Linked DNA regions of Homo sapiens. The protein of the gene in region 1 purifies or fractionates together with the protein of each later gene. This does not show direct contact. Each region holds a gene or a part of one and is shown on either strand. Other genes may lie near its edges. The genes, in order: DKK4 and RNPEPL1.

The links.
Region 2: the proteins of DKK4 (region 1) and RNPEPL1 purify together in Homo sapiens (affinity purification with mass spectrometry; 2 studies listed by BioGRID and IntAct, with this or other methods). This does not show direct contact.

The regions. Positions count from the first base shown.
Region 1 is NC_000008.11:42,375,655-42,379,572, forward strand, and holds the start of DKK4 (dickkopf-related protein 4 precursor), read right to left. Parts: upstream 1,576-3,918; 5' UTR 1,392-1,575; coding exon 1,281-1,391; intron 177-1,280; coding exon 26-176; intron 1-25. UniProt on the Homo sapiens protein: Antagonizes canonical Wnt signaling by inhibiting LRP5/6 interaction with Wnt and by forming a ternary complex with the transmembrane protein KREMEN that promotes internalization of LRP5/6.
Region 2 is NC_000002.12:240,578,418-240,582,124, forward strand, and holds the end of RNPEPL1 (aminopeptidase RNPEPL1), read left to right. Parts: 3' UTR 1-2,955; downstream 2,956-3,707. UniProt on the Homo sapiens protein: Broad specificity aminopeptidase which preferentially hydrolyzes an N-terminal methionine, citrulline or glutamine.

The DNA.
Region 1 (3,918 bases):
CCACTGTTGGCGTTATGTCGCTCACCGTTCACACAGAGTGTCCCAGGGCAGCACATGGCATCTCGCTGGCACCTCCTCCGCAACCCACGACATGTAGCACAGAACGGCTTCTCATCGCGGGGCTGGAGGCAGAACTTTCTGGTATTGCAGTCCGTGTCAGACAGGCACTGTGAGCCCTGTGGAGGGAATCTGTTATCACAAGGCTAGGAAACCCCCAACACGATGGAAGATGACTTATTATTGAAGGCAGGAGGCGGAGGGAGCCAAAGGACAGTGGCGCTGTGACAAACCCTGGGCAGCATCTTACTCTCCAGTGGAAATGGTTTTCTCCCACAAAGGGAAGCTCATGTCACCCGGGGAGACCTAGGCGCTGCAAAGGCTATTTGAGTTTGAAAAATTGACTTAACTCAGAATTTAGTTTTCCTGTGCTCTTTGTGAAAATGGGAAAAAATGTTTTCCTATGTGTGTCTTAACAGGTGAGTATGAGATTTTCAATATATCTTAACTCTAGAAGCTGGCTACAGTTTCATTAAACATACTATTGATGTTTGTGGCATTCCTATTTGATTTTTTACTCTAGTGAATCACATTTAGCTTAGAGACCCTTCCCTAAGTGAACTGTCCTTTGATTTTCAATGATGCCTCATTGACATAGAGAAAGAGATACCGAAGATCAATTGTTCTCATACACAGTTGATGCTTCTACATAGACATACAACGTAGGTGTAGCATATATGATATATGTAATAATCTATACGATATATAATAACATATACACATACATAAAGCGATTCCTAAAACAACTCTCTCTGTGAAGTTAGATGGTGACAAGGCAATGCATCATGGCCCTCTGTTTAAATTCTCATTCCCATGTTTGCTTGCTGGCTGTGTGAGCTTGGGTAAGCTCTTCAACATCTCTGAGTCTTATTTCCTCATCTGGAATTAGGGAATGTTTCACCTATCTCAAATTGTGAGGAAGAGTACATGACGTATTACATGTAAAAGAGCTGGCACATAGTAGAGCTTCCAAAGTGTTCGTTTATTTCGTGATTTATAGACAAACGTATGGCCGAATGATGTGAAAAGCCACTGTGTTTATTTCATACATTCACACTAAGGCCACTGATCCTACCAGGATGCCCTCCCAAATCCGAAACCAATTCAATTTACCTGCTAGGTAAGACATTTCATACATGAATCAGAATGACTTACTAAAGCCTAAACAAAACACCCCAGCTGTCAGCAGTCCCGTACCTCGCCCCCCTCCCTAGCAGCCTTACCTTCCGGGCCCCATGCAGGTCAGCAGAGCTCCTGATGTTGTTGAAGTCCAGGACCAGAGCTCCCAGGGGAGAGCAGAGCCAGCTCAGCCCCAGCAGGACGGCCGCCACCATCCTTCAATCCCGGGGCTCCTGGAGGGTCCCAGCACTGTGCGTCACCAAAGCGAGGCTGCTCTCCACCCAGAGCAGAGCTTCCACTAAGCTGGCAGCTCAGCACGTCGTCTGTTTGTCACTGCTTTTTCTGAAAGAAGTAAACCTTAGTCTGAGTAAGGTGCGTGAAATCGGCTGAGCAAAGTCTGACCAGCAGGTTCCTCCTGAAACTATTTATAACCAGATGTGCCTCCTCCCCGCTCCGTTCCTTCCTCCTGCCCCACACAGGCTTCAACAAATCCCTTCAAATCTGTTTGATCAATAGTTCAAAACAAGGACTCAATAGAAGGAGAGAAGAGGCAGGGCCATGCGGCTTCTCCTCCAGGGGTTCAATCCCTCTTAATTATTGCATATCAAAGTTAGTTCAAAGGGCCACGGCAGAGCAGGATGTCTGTATCAAAGGCAAACTCTGATAATCACCTGCATTTCCTACCTTCAGTAATCCTTTGGGGGTAGGGAGGGAGTCTGCCCTAAGATCTGTTTTCACAGCTAATTGTGCTCAAAGAAAGGATGAATCATACTGGCCAATATGCTATAGAGGATGCCAAAAACTAATGAGGTACAAAATACACTGAGAAGCTGTAAACTGGGCTTCAGATAGTGAGGACAGATAGAAAAAGAGAAAACGCCCCCTGATTAGCTCTGGCATCCAGATGTCAAAATCCCAACCGCTTAAAAGTTGTGAACGTAACAGCACCTGTTCTGACTAAATGCCATTTGGGAAATTACTTTCCTTTAAATGAAAATTGAACTGTTTGAAGTTAGGGTTATTAGGAAAATAATGTAATTTATGAAAATCCCATTTTTCAATGGTGGGAACAATGATAGCGCATTTTACACAATTCAGTACGAAGCTTTGGGTCCATTTTATCAGCAACATATTTAATTTGTGTTGCATTATGTAAAACTCACTTAAGCAGAACAAGGATCCAAGTCTCTGGCTGATTTCAGATGAAATTTCATGTATTTCCAATTTTCCTAATACGAATTTTTTAAAACTTCTGCTTCATCCCTTTCCTGTCTGATTTTTTTCCATTTGGACTATTAGTCAGGTAATTTAGACATGTGCTTATCACTGTCTTAAATACTTTAAGGGTAGAACAATCTAGATCTGGATCAAAAAATCATTTTTTCTCTTCATTGTTTCATTGCTCTTAGCATAGAGTCATCTAAAATGCATTTTTTCTATGCCATAAATGATAATCTTATTATTTACTACATTTTCCTGCAGAACAACCTAACATCAATTCATTGACATGAATCTCAGCATTCTGTGCATGGGAACATTCTCAATTTTGAGTAATGCAGTGCCATTCCGAGGGTGATGCAGGTGATTCGAGCCTTCCTACTACTTGGCCCTTGTCCTTGGGTTGGTATTGCTTGTCTACCTCTCGTATGGAAGTTACTTGTTTTAATCCCTTAAACTGACATCAAACAACACCCTTTGATAGCATGATAACCCTGGTGACTAGGGGTGTTACAGAATTTATTTTCAAGTTGTACAATTATGACCAAGGATAAAGGAAAGAGCCCCCAGGGTTCTGTCTCTGCCGGGTTTCTCTGCTTCCTGCTGCCTCACTGTAAGGGAATTTCAGGTTACCAAAGGCCCCTGGCAATATACACAGGCGAAAGAACTGACGGGAACTCCTGTAACACGGCACAAACAGCCACTGAGCACTTAGAGCACTTGGCATGGAACAGAGCCTCGGATTACATGTTAGGAATAAAATTTGAAACTCCAATGGCCGGGCACAGTGGCTCACACCTGTAATCCCAGCACTTTGGGAGGCCAAGGTGGGAAGATCTCCTGAGCTCAGGAGTTCAAGACGAGCCTGGGCAACATATTGAGATCCTGTCTCCACAAAAAAAAAAAAAAAAAAAAAAGTAGGCCGCGTGCGGTGGCTGACGCCTGTAATCTCACCACTTTGGGAGGCTGAGGTGGATGGATCACCTGAGGTCAGGAGTTCGAGACCAGCCTGGCCAATATGGTGAAACCCTGTCTCTACTAAAAATATAAAAACTAGTCGGGCGTGGTGGTGGTCACCTGTAATCCCAGCTACTCGGGAGGCTGAGGCAGGAGAATTGTTTGAACCTAGGAGACCGAGGTTGCAGTGAGCCAACACGGTGCCACTGCACTCCAGCCTCGGCAACAGAGTGAGACTCCATCTCAAAAAAAAAAAAAATTAGCCAGTCATAGTGGTGTTCACCTGTAGTTTCAGCAACTCAGGAAGCTGAGGTGGGAGAATCATTTAAGCCCAGGAGATTAAGCCTATATATATATATATATATATATATATAGAGAGAGAGAGAGAGAGAGAGAGAGAGAGAGAGAGAGAGAGAGAGAGAAAGATTCAGACAGAAAACTTGTATGTATGGATGACAGAGCCTGGGTGACACAGAGAGAGAGAGAGATCCAGATAGAAGACATGTACATATGGATGATTTCAATGTATTATGACAAGCACTAAAATAAAGGTATAAATATAAGGGT
Region 2 (3,707 bases), on another chromosome or scaffold:
GGGCAGGGGACACAGGGAGAGGATGGTTGTCCCTGGGGAGGGCCCTCTGGCCCCAGGCAACCTTAGCCCCTCAGAACAGGGAGTCCCAGGACCCAGGGAGAGTGTGGGGACAGGACAGCCTGTCTCTTGTAGCTTCCTGGGGTGGGAGGCACAGGGGCAAAGCAATACCCCAGGGAAAGTGGGAGGTGGTGCTGGTGCTCTCTCCAGGCCCACCATGCTGGGAGAGGCGGCCAGAGCCTGGGGCCTCCAGCCTGGGACTGCTGTGATGGGGTATCACGGTGATGGTCCCATTAAACTTCCACTCTGCAAACCTGATCTCCTGCGCTCTTTCTCGCGACTCTTGTCCTCTGCATCTTCCTGGCTGTGTAGGGTGGGCTGGCCTGCCGGGACTTGGGGCCTGGAGCTGGTCAGGAGCTGGGTGTGGCCCCCTCCTCTGATACATAAGCCCGAGAGCAGGCTCCCCGAATCCTGCCCAGCCCCTTGGCTGGACCCCCTGGGCCTGAGTAGCCTCTGGATGTCACAGGAAAGCCATGTGTCACCTTCACTCTGGGCCTTCACCTGTGGCTTAAGCCAAATCCCGGCCTCAGTGGTGATCCTTTCCCAAGATGGGTACAAGGTGACAGGCATGTTTTGTTTTGGAGAACTGAGATTTCCATTTTCCCAGGCGATAGGTGTCGCTGCCCTTCACAGTCCCCAAGGATGTGGCGCCACCATCTCAGTGCCACGCACACCTGGCCAACATGCCGTGGCCCAGAAGCAGCACGTCTCTTCTCCCAACCCGCTGGCCAGGCCCAGTCACAGCCCCACTCCACACATGGCAGCCAGGAAGTGGGGAGGGCAGGAGGTGCTGGGCAAATAACCCTGATACCATCACTGTCCAGTCCCCAGTCACCAAATGTCCCACTCACCCTCCTTCCTGTTCTGGATGCCCCGCCCCTCCCCTCCCCTCCCAAGGACATATGAGTCCCCTCCAGTGGCGGTGGCAACTCTGGTCTAGGGTCTGGGGCCGTCTCTACATGTGTTGCTTCATGTACCTTCTTCACATCAGGTCTGGGGGAGGCGCCACCCCATCCAGAGACCTAGGAACTAGAAGACTGCCACTGCCCCTCACACCCAGGGATAGGATGACTGCAGTAACCCCTGTGAAAGCGGGTATGGAGGGCACCTGGCAGCCCCTGCTGCATGGCCATCTAAAGTCTTGCCAGGCAGGCACAGCTAGGGCCCCTGCCTGGGAGTGGACACCCCACTCCCCCAAGTCATGTTCTCTGTGGCCTGGGGCTCCAGCCTTGGGAGGACCCCTTTCCTGTTTCTTAACCATGCTTGATGGTGTCCTCAAAGGAGCCCTGCTCAGTGGCAGAACTGCTTTCTCAGCCTCTTCCCCGCCAAGGTTGTTTTCAAGTCCCAGCAGTCACAGACTTTCATCCTGGGCTCTTCTTTCTTTTGCAATTCAGCTCTCGAAATGACTCTGTGGTCTGCGGGTGACTCCACTCCACGTGCCTACAGCCACGCCCACAGCGCCACCTCCGGACGCTGCTGAGCTGCGCACCTGTGCCTGACACCTGGCTTTGGGAAACTCAGCAGCAGTGCCCAGCGTCATGACCCTGGGGGCAGGAGGGCATCTGGATCCAGGATGGCACCCTCACCACAATCTGTCTTGGCTCTGTGCCCGCCCGTGGGGTACACAGGAGGGCTCTTTCAGCCCTAAGTCCTTGTGTTCCTGACCTTTGTTCCTCTTCCACCCAGCTTGCAAGTGCAGAATTTTTTTTTAGCTCGTCGCTTCCCTGCAGTCCCTTGTCCAATGCAGCCTCCGGCCGATACTCAGGCCAGTGTTGTTTCCCAACCTCTCCACTAGATACGCACACTTAGCTCACGGTCTGCCTCATGAGTCATCCCAGTTGAGCTTTACCAAATGTTTTGCCCCACCTAACAGCCTGCCCACATTCCAAATCCTGGCAGGTCGCACGTTTTATTAGCACAGCACCCCTCTCCTAGCGGCCAGCTTCTCTATTAGGCCACGTTATGCTCCAGCCACACAACTATGAAGCGCAGACGTCTCACACAACAAAGCTTTCTCATGCTGCAGGCCCACCTCAGGCTGGCAGGGGAAGGGGGGATTCTCTTCAATGTGACCACTCTCGGACCCGTACCGATGAACAGAGATCTCAAATGTTTCCAGGCACCTTGCCAGGGATAAGAGAGCTGTTGAGGGGCTCACACTGGCAGTGGAAGTTCTAAGGGGCCTACAACCACAGGGGCTGCAACCCCACCATATGCACAAAAGCGGGGGCAGATGGCAAACAGCACTAATGACAACGACGGAGCTGAGGCCAGAATGTGAGAGAGATCTGCATTTTGGGGATTAGGGCCTAGTCAGGCAGGTAGGAGATGATGTTCAAAAAGGGAAAAGAAGCGTGATGAAAGACTGGTTTCTACAGAGATAGATTAGAAAGCTGAAGCCTGAAAAAACAGTGAAGGAGACCCATGCAAATTTCTAGGCCCTGGAGGTCCAAATAAGGTTTTCTAAGTCCCTCAGGCCATGACAGGTTCAGTCCAGACTTGTCTCCCAGAGTGTTTCTCTGCCATCCCTACTCTAACTGGGACTTATTGGTGGTGTTTCTCTCCTAAGGCCAGATGCTTTGCACAGAACATTAGGAAACTCCAGATGTAAAGGTAAGGCACAACTGAGAATCACCTGCCCAGGGCAGCAACACAGTGTGAAGGAAAACAGGCCACTCAACCCAAACTTACACCTGAGACAGAGGCAACAGAAAAATCAGAAAAGGACTTTAGAACACATATAATCAAAATCTCAGACCTAAAGACGACTTTTGAAATAAACCATAACATATGAAGAGGCACTTATGAAACAAGAACAGGTAGTTTATAAAAAAGAACCAGTCAGAGACCCTGGAAATTTTTTAAAAAGCAATTACTAAAATAAAAAATGAAAACTCAGTCAACAGTGCTCTGGTTTGGATGTTCCCTCCAAAATTCATGTTGAAATTTAATTGCCATTGTGATGGTATTAAGAGGTGGAACCATTAAGAAGCGATTAGGCCATGAGGGTTCTGCCTTGATGAATGCATTAATGTCATTATCAGAGTGGGTTCGTTATCATGAGCATGTGTTGTAAAAATGAATTTAGCTGTCTCTTGCTGTGTGTCCTCTTGCTCTTCCATCTTCCCCCATGGAATGGTGTGGCAAGAAGGCCTTTACCAGATGCCAGCCCCTCGCCCTTGGACTTCCCAGCCTCCAGAACTATAAGAAATACATTTATTTTCATTATAAATTACCCAGTCCGTGGTATTGTTATAGGAACAGAAAATGCACTTGGGGATATTAGGTCGTGGAGAGTAAAAAAAAAAAAAAAATAAGTTCCAGTCAATCAAGGCATCCTCATTCTCAACATTGCCTGCATTCTACCCTCCAGGGGTCCCCTCCATGGCCCTTCATCTGCCCCCACCCCGCAACTCAGCCTCATTTCTTCAGCCATTTTCTCCCCCACATCTCTCTTCCCTTCCCATCAGACCTTCACATCCTGCAAGCTAAGCCACCTCAACTAGCCATGCCCTCAGGGCTCTTACTCAAGCACCCACCAAGATGTTTTTCCTAACAAAGACTGTCCTTTTACTAAGAGGAATCTGATGTCAGCTGTTAGTCTCCGCTCCCCCCCACCCCCCATCTCTCGGAATAATCACCTGGTCAGA